Homo sapiens: one gene and its partner. The protein of the gene in region 2 interacts with the protein of the main gene of each other region in a pairwise test. Each region holds a gene or a part of one and is shown on either strand. Other genes may lie near its edges.

The links.
Region 1: the proteins of DEFB103B (region 2) and ODF4 interact in binary tests that used the Homo sapiens proteins (3 or more experiments, as listed by UniProt).

Annotation. Positions count from the first base shown.
Region 1 is NC_000017.11:8,342,807-8,346,815, forward strand, and holds the end of ODF4 (outer dense fiber protein 4), read left to right. Parts: intron 1-2,536; coding exon 2,537-2,671; intron 2,672-2,861; coding exon 2,862-3,046; 3' UTR 3,047-3,240; downstream 3,241-4,009. UniProt on the Homo sapiens protein: Component of the outer dense fibers (ODF) of spermatozoa which could be involved in sperm tail structure, sperm movement and general organization of cellular cytoskeleton.
Region 2 is NC_000008.11:7,428,263-7,434,721, forward strand, and holds DEFB103B (beta-defensin 103 precursor), read right to left. Parts: upstream 2,087-6,459; 5' UTR 1,869-2,086; coding exon 1,811-1,868; intron 868-1,810; coding exon 722-867; 3' UTR 626-721; downstream 1-625. UniProt on the Homo sapiens protein: Exhibits antimicrobial activity against Gram-positive bacteria S.aureus and S.pyogenes, Gram-negative bacteria P.aeruginosa and E.coli and the yeast C.albicans. Kills multiresistant S.aureus and vancomycin-resistant E.faecium.

The DNA of each region.
Region 1 (4,009 bases), on a different chromosome or scaffold from region 2:
CTGCAGCCTCAAACTGCTGGGCCCAAGTGATCCTCCCACCTTGAAGCTCCCAAGTAGCTGGCACCACAGATGCCACCATGCCTGGCTACTTTTTTTTTTTTAATTTGTAGAGACCAGGGTCTCCCTCTGTTGCCCAGGCTGGTCTCCAACTCCTGGGCTCAAGTGATTCTCCTGCCTCCACCTCCCAAAGTGTTGGGATTACCGGTGTGAGCCATTGTGCCCAGTCTATCACCTATCACCATTTTAAATGAACACACAATAACACAATGTATGGGGATAGTATAATTTATTTTACAAATCTCTTCTAAATCAAGGAGCTTATTGGACATTTTTTTTTTTTTTTGAGATGGAGTCTTGCTCTGTTGCCCAGGTTGGTGTGCAGTGGCATGATCTCGGCTCAGTGCAACCCCTGCTTCCTGGGCTCAAGTGATCCTTCCACCTCAGTTTCCCCAGTAGCTGAGACTACAGACAGGTGCCACTACACCTGGCTAATTTTTGTATTTTTAGTAGAGACGGGGTTTTTACCATGTTGGCCAGGCTGGTTTCAAACTCCTGACCTCAAGTGATCCGCCCACCTCAGCCTCTCAAAGTACTGGGATTATAGGCGTGAGCCAGCACACCCAGCCGACATATTAATATCTCTGCAAAGAAGATTCCTGTACTGAGATTTTGCTGCAGATCTCTGATTATTCCTTAACATAAATTCCAAGAAGAAGCATTGTAGGGTCAAAGAATGTAGATTTTCTGGATCTTTTGTACCAGATCATTCACCACAAATGCTGCCCACCAGGAGCGTATGAGAGGACCTCTTTTCTCTACATACTCTCCTATACTAGGTGTTATCAATCTTATTTTGATCTTTGCTAATTTGACAGTTTATATATATGTATGTAGAGATGGGGTTTCACCATGTTGGTCAGGATGGTCTCGATCTCCTGACCTCGTGATCTGCCCACCTCGGCCTCCCAAAGTGCTGGGATTACAGGTGTGAGCCACCGCACCCAGCCAAGTGTGTGTGTGTGTGTGTGTGTGTGTGTGTGTGTCTATATATATATAGACTGCAACCTCAGCTTCCTGGGATCAAGCGATTCTCTTGTCTCAGCTTCCCAGCAGCTGGGATTACAGGCGCATGCCACCATGCCCAGCTAATTTTTATATTTTTAGTAGCGATGGGGTTTCACCATGTTGCCCAGGCTGGTCTCGAACTCCTGATCTCAAGTGACCTGCCCACCTCGGCCTCCCAAAGTGCTAGGATTACAGGGGTGAGCCACTGCACCCGACACCAATTGTATATTTTTAAAGAGACAGGGCCTCCCTATGTTGTCCAGGCTGCTCTCAAACCCTCAGGCTCAAGAGATCCTCCCACCTCAGCTTCCCAAAGTGGTGGGATTACAGGTGCGAGCCACCATGCTCAGCCTCGATGGTTTTTCACAAATCACATTTAATTAGCAATTCTTTGTGTTGAGCTTTATATGTTTATCAGACATTTGTACTCCTTCTTTGGAGAATTGCAGTTTAAGTCCTCTGTACATTTTTTCTGTTGAGGTATTCATTTGCATGTGGTTGAGGTTATCAAACAATATCCATATCAAGGATCTCGGATTGTTTAAGAAGTGAAAGCAATATTTCATTTTTATTTCAAATGTGCATTTCTCTGATTATTAATGGGTCTGTACATTTTCTTTCTGTCTTTTTTGTTTTTTGTTTTTTGCAGGCGGCGTCTCGCTCTGTTGCCCAGGCTGGAGTGCAGTGGCTCACCACAACCTCCGCTTCCCAGGTTCAAGCGATTCTCCTGCCTCAGCCTCCGGAGTAGCTGAGACTACAGGCATGCACCACCATGCCCAGCTAATTTTTGTATTTTTAGTAGAGACGGGGTTTCGCTATGTTGGCCAGGCTGGTCTTGAACTCCTGACCTTGTGATCCACCTGCCTCGGCCTCCCAACGTGCTAGGATTACAGGCGTGAGTCACCGCGCCTGGCGGTACATTTTCTTGTATTTGCTCATTTGATTATGTTTCATCTTTTGTAAATCCTTAGTTGATCTTGTTTGTTTGTCATTTTCCCCAGGCAGTTTTAAGCTGTGGACAATCAGCCCATGTTTAAGGTGGCTAAGTTAAGCTTCAACCTGACCCTGGGGCTGGGCCTCGTCCTCACCATCTGGTTGCACCTGCCCTACCTGCCCGCTGTTCAAAAATTGCCCTTTGTGGGCTTCGGGACCATCTTGAGCTTCTGTGAAGGTGCCTCCTAGCTCTGGAAAGGTCCTTTGTTTTCCTAACCCCCATCTTCCTGGGCACTTCTCCCTCTTCTTTGGGGGTGGTATGAGGGTTTTGTGGGTGGTGGGAGAACAGAACCGAGAATCGAGTTACATCATTTCTTGGTCACAGGAGAGGTAGAAATGCAGGGGTTGACTCCTGGAACCTCAGGGCCAGTCACTCTGTGTGTGGTGATGTGGTTTGTGGCTGTAGCCTAGCAGATGAGGAAGAACCTCCTGTGGGACTCTTGTATGACAATGAGACCCTCTGCCTCCTGTCTCCTAGTCACCTTCATCTTCTCCACCCTCATGCTATTCCCCATTAACATCTGGATCTTCGAGTTGGAAAGGAATGTATCCATCCCCATAGGCTGGAGCTATTTCATTGGTTGGCTGGTGCTTATCCTATACTTCACCTGCGGTGAGTGGCCAGAGGGCCCTGGGGGAAGGAAGCGACATGGGTAGGGTAGGGCAGGGAAAGTGTGGAGGGAAGAGGCTGGCAATCCCCAGGGCTAGATTTTTAGGGTCTTATCTTCCCTTTGGTCTCACCCTACTTGTCACTTAACCTCCCAGTCACAACTTTCCTCTCCCCTGTCCCTGTCCTTTCCCAGCGATCCTTTGCTACTTCAACCATAAAAGTTTCTGGAGTCTGATTCTGAGCCACCCCAGTGGTGCCGTGTCCTGCAGCAGCAGTTTCGGCTCAGTAGAAGAATCTCCAAGGGCACAGACGATCACAGACACCCCCATCACCCAGGAGGGAGTCCTGGATCCTGAGCAGAAGGATACACATGTGTAATCTTTTCTGAACTCCTGGCACCAAGTTCTGTCCATTCATCTGACCCCATCTCCTCATCCTCCCCCAGCCCTTGAATAGGTTGGTCCTCATCATTGCAAGGAATGAGAAAGGGAGGATTTTGCACTCCTCTGCTTTCTCCCTGCCTTGATTGAGCTTGAGTGATGTGGAATAAATTGTCCGTCTCTTCTTTCTCATATCTGGCTGTTGTTGAGGCAAGCTAGAGGAGGAGGGAGAGGAAGGGAGAAAGAACAAGTTTGTTTTCCAGTTCTTCCTGCCCAGGAGCCTTTTGGCACCCGTTAGTGCCTAAACCTGCCCAACCTCTACCAGAACATACTTGTACATGGGCAAACGCCTCTGGAGAGCTAAACCTCTTTTTACTTTGTTACCCCTGACCCAACATTTGCTAGTTAGTGGGTGGAGGAGGTAGAGCTGATTAGGAGACAGATATCACTTGCCAACTTGTTGGCTTAAGCATAGTGAAGGATTCAAAAGCCAAATGGCTCAAAGATAAGAGGCAGGTTAAACAAGGAGCACCACAGCACAAGTGGTCAGCCCAGGTGTGTGTCCTGGGCAGCAGTCCCACCCTCTGTGTCCAGCTCCGATGACAGAGCGCATAGAGCCTGTGCCCTGGAAACCACCACTACCACCATCCCCCCAGGCTGCTATAGCTTTCCACCCAAGCCTCCCACACCCTCCACCATGTAACAGCAGGAATAAAACATGGCAACAAAGGAAAGCATTAGGGTTAGGTCCTAAGACCAAAAGGTAAGTTGCATATTTGGGTTTTAAAGTTAGCTTGGGGAATGCTGGCAATGCCCATCAGGCTTTGGACATGTTGCCCAGAGAGGCCAGCCTCCTAGGAGAGCATCCATAGCTGATCTTGGTCATGTCTATCCCTCCAGATGAAACCACAATACATCCTGCTGATTGGTAGAGCCCAGTGGTCTGTTTTGATAGGGCGCT
Region 2 (6,459 bases):
CAATGTAAAAACCAAGCAAGGGTTGTAGATGGAGGACTCAAGTCAGAACCCTGTGGTGAACCAGAGGAAAGACTGTAAGCATTTGGGAAATCACCTGTGTTTTTAAGGTGGAGATAAAATGTGAGACGGTCCCTGAAGGACAGGTTAAAGTTTAGAGATGAAGTTGGAGGAGTGAGGCAGACATGAGGTCAACCAGAGCAGAGGCATGGGTGAGAGAAAGCAAAGTGAATATCTGAGGAAGAGCCAGTTTCCTTATTTCTCTGAAGACAAAGTTTTTGGAAGGAATTGGGATAGCCCCTGAGGGATGCATGAAAACCTTAGAGATAGATTTGGTGGAGAGATGCCATTTGGGGTAGAGGGACTGAAAAGGCCCAAGGCTTGGATGACATGAAAGCAAAGGGCATATTCCAAGAGAGTGAAGAGTCCAACTTCACTGGGGCATAACGTTCACAAAGTAGGAATAGAACCTGATAACCCTTGGATAATAAGGTTGGGCTCCCTTATAGATTTCTCCAGAGATTCTACTTTCTTTGAACGAAAGGTGAGTCCTTAAGATTTTCTGAGTTGTCTGTTTGGAAACAAGTACCAAAATAATCAGATTTAAAAAAAAAAATCAAGCTCCTAATTTTTTTTGAAAAAAAAATGTAATTTGATTTTACTTTTATAAACTTTAAGAAGGCATTTCCACACTTTACAACACTCTCGTCATGTTTCAGGGTTTTTATTTCTTTCTTCGGCAGCATTTTCGGCCACGCGTCGAGCACTTGCCGATCTGTTCCTCCTTTGGAAGGCAGCTGAGCACAGCACACCGGCCGCCTCTGACTCTGCAATAATATTTCTGTAATGTGTTTATGATTCCTCCATGACCTGCAATGACAAAACAGCACACACGGAAAGGTTTTAGGAAGGCTTTTGGTACACGTACAAGGCTTGTGGAATTCCTCAAATAACTCATCCCTTGCTTTTCTTGTATTCTTTTGTTTCTTTTTCCTTTTTCTATAAAATCAGGAGGAAGATGAAGGTATGACTACACAACCCATAGACAATGTTTCTAAGGCTGCAGCTCAGCTGTGGACCCACAGTGGCACCGGGGAAGTGGCGTGACCCTGTGACTGCCGCAGGAACAGTGGGGGTGCTGAGGCTGTGGTGTCCTCAGAGGTAGCCCCAACACTCCACCTCCAACCATTGCACTTAGTAGAACAGGAGCCTGTGCTTCTATTCTCAGAGTAAATCAATCTTTCCTGCTACATTAAACTTTTATGTCTGATTCATGTCTCATCAGCTGGTATAATAATCTTCCCTTGAAGAGTTGGGGAAAGAGATAGCTTTGGGGAGCTATTTAGTTTCTTAATGATTCTTTTCTTTTTTTTTTTTTTTGAGGTGTACTCTCACCCTGTCACCCAGTCTGGAGGACAGTGGCGTGATCTCGGCTTACTGCAACCTCCGCCTGCCAGGTTTAAGCAATTCTCTGCCTCAGCCTCCCGAGTAGCTGGGATTACAGGTGCCCGCCACTGTGCCCAGATAATTTTTGTATTTTTAGTAGAGATGGGGTTTCACCATCTTGGCCAGGCTGGTCTTGAACTCCTGACCTCGTGATCCGCCCACCTCGGCCTCCCAAAGTGTTGAGATTACAGGCATGAGCCACCGCACCTGGCCTCTTAATGATTCTTGTCTGAAAAAAAAGTGGTGATGCCTAGTTCCCATACAACAAACCTGCTTGGTCCAAAGCACTCTGAAGGATGGAGAAATACTGACTCTGAATTATATATTCTCAATTAGATCAATCCTTAGATTTCCCAGCCCATCTTACCTGGAACAGGCACCAAAAACAGGAAGAGCAAAGCAAACAGAAGATAATGGATCCTCATAGCTGCTAGGCTTCACCCCACGCTGAGACTGGATGAAAAGGTGTGCTTGGTCACTTTATAAAGGTTCCAGCCACAGCTGCAATTCTTGTCATATTACAGTGATGACATTATGACATGTTTTCTGATGCATCATTCCAATGCCTCTCACCATGCAGAACACACCCACTCACTCAGTTAATTAGGAACCCAATGGTAAGGCAGAGCTCCCTATGGATTTGTGGCTGTCCGGGTGCTCTCTGGACTCCAGGGGCTTGTCTGGGTGTGGGTCAGATTGGGTTGTGGGTACAGATAGGGCTGGCATGAGCAAGTATGCCCCCTTTGGGGAATAGTCTCAGGGCATGTGGCTGGGGGCTGACTTGTCCGTACTTTGCTGCTTTGGAGCTTTTTTTCTCTTCCTAAAATGCTGGGAGAGTCTAAGACCCTCCTGGGGACCAAATAAATCCAGCCCTGGACATATTCAATATCTGGCAATAGGACTGGCTTTTTGGTAGTGAGGTAAGGGAGGAAAATGGGCTACATTCAAGGTTAGCTGACCACCTGGCCCTTGGCCTATGATGGGGTGCTATAATTTGAGTGAAACATGTCTCATTCTTTCATTTTTTTTTTTTTTTTTTGAGAGACAGAGTCTCACTTTTTTGTGCAGGCTGGAGTGCAGTGGCATGATTACAGCTCACAACAGCTTGAGCTGTCAGGCTCAAGAGGTCCTCCCACTTCAGCCCCCTGAGTAGCTGGGACCACAAACGCATACCTCCACACATGGCTAAATTTTAAATTTTCTGTAGAAAATAAAATGGGGTCTCACTATGCTGCCCAGACTGGTTTCGAGCCCAGATGTGAACTCCTGGGCTCAAGCAATCCTCCTGCTTCAGCCTCCTAAATTGCTGGGATTACTGGTATGAGCCACTGTGTGCGGCCCATGTCCGATTCTTCATCATTGTCTAAAACCTACCAAATTTATGAGTAAAGAAGGTGTTTAATTTTACTTCATCAGAGAAAGAGGATGCTGGGATGATAGATTTAATAGACTGGCATCTCCTCCTAGTCAATGACTGTCCCTGTGCAAAAGAGGGGCTTCAGAATAGACATTTAAGACCTCAAGTTACTCTTGGCTCAGGAGCATTCAAGGCAGTCCAGGGGCCAGATGATTTCCCCTGCATATAGATTCAACGTTTAGAGGGAAAAATGCTAAAAAAGAAAAAAAAAACAGCTATTAAACTTAAATGTTCAGGAATCCAATGGATGGGTTGTATTTGGTTGACTATCAATTGGGAACTAAGTAAGTCAATGACAATTCAATTGGGAGCTGAAGTCACCGTGATGTCTCCTAGCTGCTGCTTCGTGTGAATGCAATTATAACGGATCCACTAAGGATCAAGGGTGTGTTAGTTCTGGGAGTGTGTGTTCAGAATTTGGGTGCACCACACCTGTCAGATTCAGTAAGAAAACTCTGAACACATACTATAGGAAGGGACAAGTATCATGTCTTCAGCATAGGTGAGGGTGAAGTGGATGAGATACCAAGAGGGACCAGTCTTGGTTCTTTCTCTCCAGAAGCTCCATGTAGGGCCAGGTAGATGGGCAGACAGTCAAATGATAAATTTAGGATGAATTATAATGGGAGTCATAGGAAGATTTCAAGCACAGGGCTGCAGAAACGTAGAAGAAAGATAACTCATCATAACTCAAAGATAACTCTTTGAGCCAAGAGTGGAGCTCAATCAGCAGATTTAAGACTTTAGATAGGTAGATGCTACTTTTTAAAATCTAACTTTCCTCTTTAGTTCATGATTTGAGACAAAGCAATTGGAGATATTTATAAATGGGGGAAGGAGGTGAGTGTGGGTGGGATGGGTGCTGACTTCACAGTCTTACTATGTCAGACATAACGATGGCATTGGGCGTTGTAGAGGGTTAGCACCAGCTCTCAGCCTGGGGTGAGGACAGTCAGACGCTGGAGATGACTTGCTTTTCCACATGGAGAATAGACTTCCACAGGTGAACCCCTGGTCTAACCTGTTCCTTCATAGACTGGGAGGCATTTTTATGGCAACACCACTATTTCATAAAAGTTCCTTGGTGAGGAAAAATGCCACTTTTTCTTGTCAACTAGTTTGGGAGCTGGGAATTGGAGATTGGGCTGTGACAATCAGCCTTTTCAAGTTTGGACATACTCCAGACACACAAAATCCGTTTTGAGGGGGACTTACCTGTTTTAAGAAAATTATAAAAGTAATGCATTTTTATGGTAAAATTTCAAACAATAGAAGAGAGAGACTGTGTAATTTACTTCTCTACTTCAGGGAGCCACTGACAACTGTGAATTGTCCTCTTTTTGGCTTATTATAATCCTTTTTATGTCTTCAATACTTTTAGCCTCTCAAATGATAACAAGTACACGTGTGCTGTCTAATAGTTGGGTGAATAGATTCATGTGTCTGAAGCCATACAACACTAACGACAGCTGGGTCTTGTCACTCCCTGCCCCTGGGCTCTGAGTCACAGCGCTTGGAACTGCAGATCCTGCAAATTTTTGTACCCATGTGCTTGGTTTCCTTGTAGCTCTCACAGCCAGCATTTTGACATTTTGATTAGGTTGAGCAAGGAAGAGAAACTTTAGTTATTTATCACCTTTGTTCATGTCAGACTTTCCTTTAATTATTATTTTTTAAATCCTGTTCTTAAAATGTGGAGCTGAGATGTGATTGGTCCAAGTTTGTGGCAGAAGGGCAGAGCTATGTAGAAGACAAACACCAGGTCTGAAGTGAGGCGTCATTGGGCCATCACTCAGCCCTACCGTGTATGGCGTGGGTTTACCTGAATAAATTACCTAAGCTCTGTGAGCATCTGTAACTCAGCAACAAAGCACAGAGAGCAGTACATTTCCTGTTTAGGTCACAGTGAAAGCCCTATGAGTTAATGGTGTGAAATTGACTTGTACATTGCAAATCACCATGTGACCCATGTATCACCCAAGTATCACCCACGTGACCCTCGGTTAACAATATCAAGACTCTGGCATGGGCTCCCAGCACGGGAATCCAGGGTGTCAACTCCTCTTCATCTTGACATAGTCTAAGATGAAGGTTGGCTCAGCCATTCTCCTTTGCAGCCATTAATCTTGTCACAACCACCATTATATAAGTTATACAAATAAAGGCAGACATTTTTCCAATTTTATAGATGAAGACACTGAGGCTCAGAGAGGTTGAATGACATGCTGTAGTGAATTGCAGCATTGTGACCTGAAGCCAGCATGTCCAGTCATTTCTCTGCCTGCTCTCAGAGTCATCCCTTGACTATTGGTGATCTACACTCATGTGTAGTGGTCTATACTTAGGTGTGTACCCTTTTCCATCACCCCATTGTCCCTAAATTCTTTGCATCCTAGCATCTCAAGAAATCTGTCCAAACTACTCTTCCTAAGTCCAGCCAAGCCTTTTACATCCCCAGCTCAATGAGTTTTTTGTCTGTAATCTTCCTACCTGACCGTTTTGCAACATGTGCCTCGTAAGGCCACTTTCAGAAACCTATTCCTCAATTTCAATTCAACGTCCAGAGAACTTCATGGACATCTGCTCTGTATTAGGGTCTTAGGACCTGGTGCTGTGCAGGAAAGAAAGATAAACAATATTTACTCTCTAGGCTCTGAATTTTCACTATTTCCCAGTCTAATGGAAAAAGATACAAGCTGACAGTAACACGATATAACAGACATCCGCTTTCCATTGTCTCCTCCTATCCTTCCCATTACTGCCTTTGATTCATCATGGAAGTTTTCCTCCTTCTCCTGTCCCTGAAGTCCCCAAAAGGGAACATCTTCAAGAATTTAACATTTTCATGGCAATCATAATGATGATGATGATAATGATCCTCCTCCTTATCATCATTGTCACGTCATTGTAACAGATCTATTGAGCACATATTATGTTCTAGACACTGTGCTAAGCAATTTACTTGCATTTATTTCATTTGAATCATGCAGTAATTTAATAATGTTGATACACTTATCTGCATTTCCCAAATGGGGAAAGGCCAGTTGATGCTCCCATGCTCCTAACTGTATTCCAGATGCTTACTCGTGGGCCTCTGCTGGCTTCATATGATCTTTGGGATGTGGTTATCTATGCCTGCATGCAGCTACCTTCCATCTTCATCTCTAGTCTGGACCATTTCCCCAATGTTCTCAACCAATCTTTACATCACTTTTTCTGTAAATATCAACTTCATTCTCCAAATTGCTTGGTGATAGATGTTGGAAACTAGGTTCTTTCTGACTCTTCTTTCTTTTTTTGGAGGGGGGGACAGAATCTCACCCTGTCTCCCAGGCTGGAGTGAAGTGGCACAATCTTGGGTCACTGCAACTTTCACCTCCCGGGTTCAAGCGATTCTCCCACCTCAGCCTCCCAAATAGCTGAGACTATAAGTTTGCACCACCATGCCCAGCTAATTTTTGTATTTTTAGTAGAGACAGGGTTTCACCACTTTGGCCAGGCTGGTCTTGAACTCCTGATCTCCAGGGACCTGCCCTCCTCGCGCTCCCAAAGTGCTGGGTTTACAGCCATCAGCCAATTCTTTCTACAAAGTGGTTTGC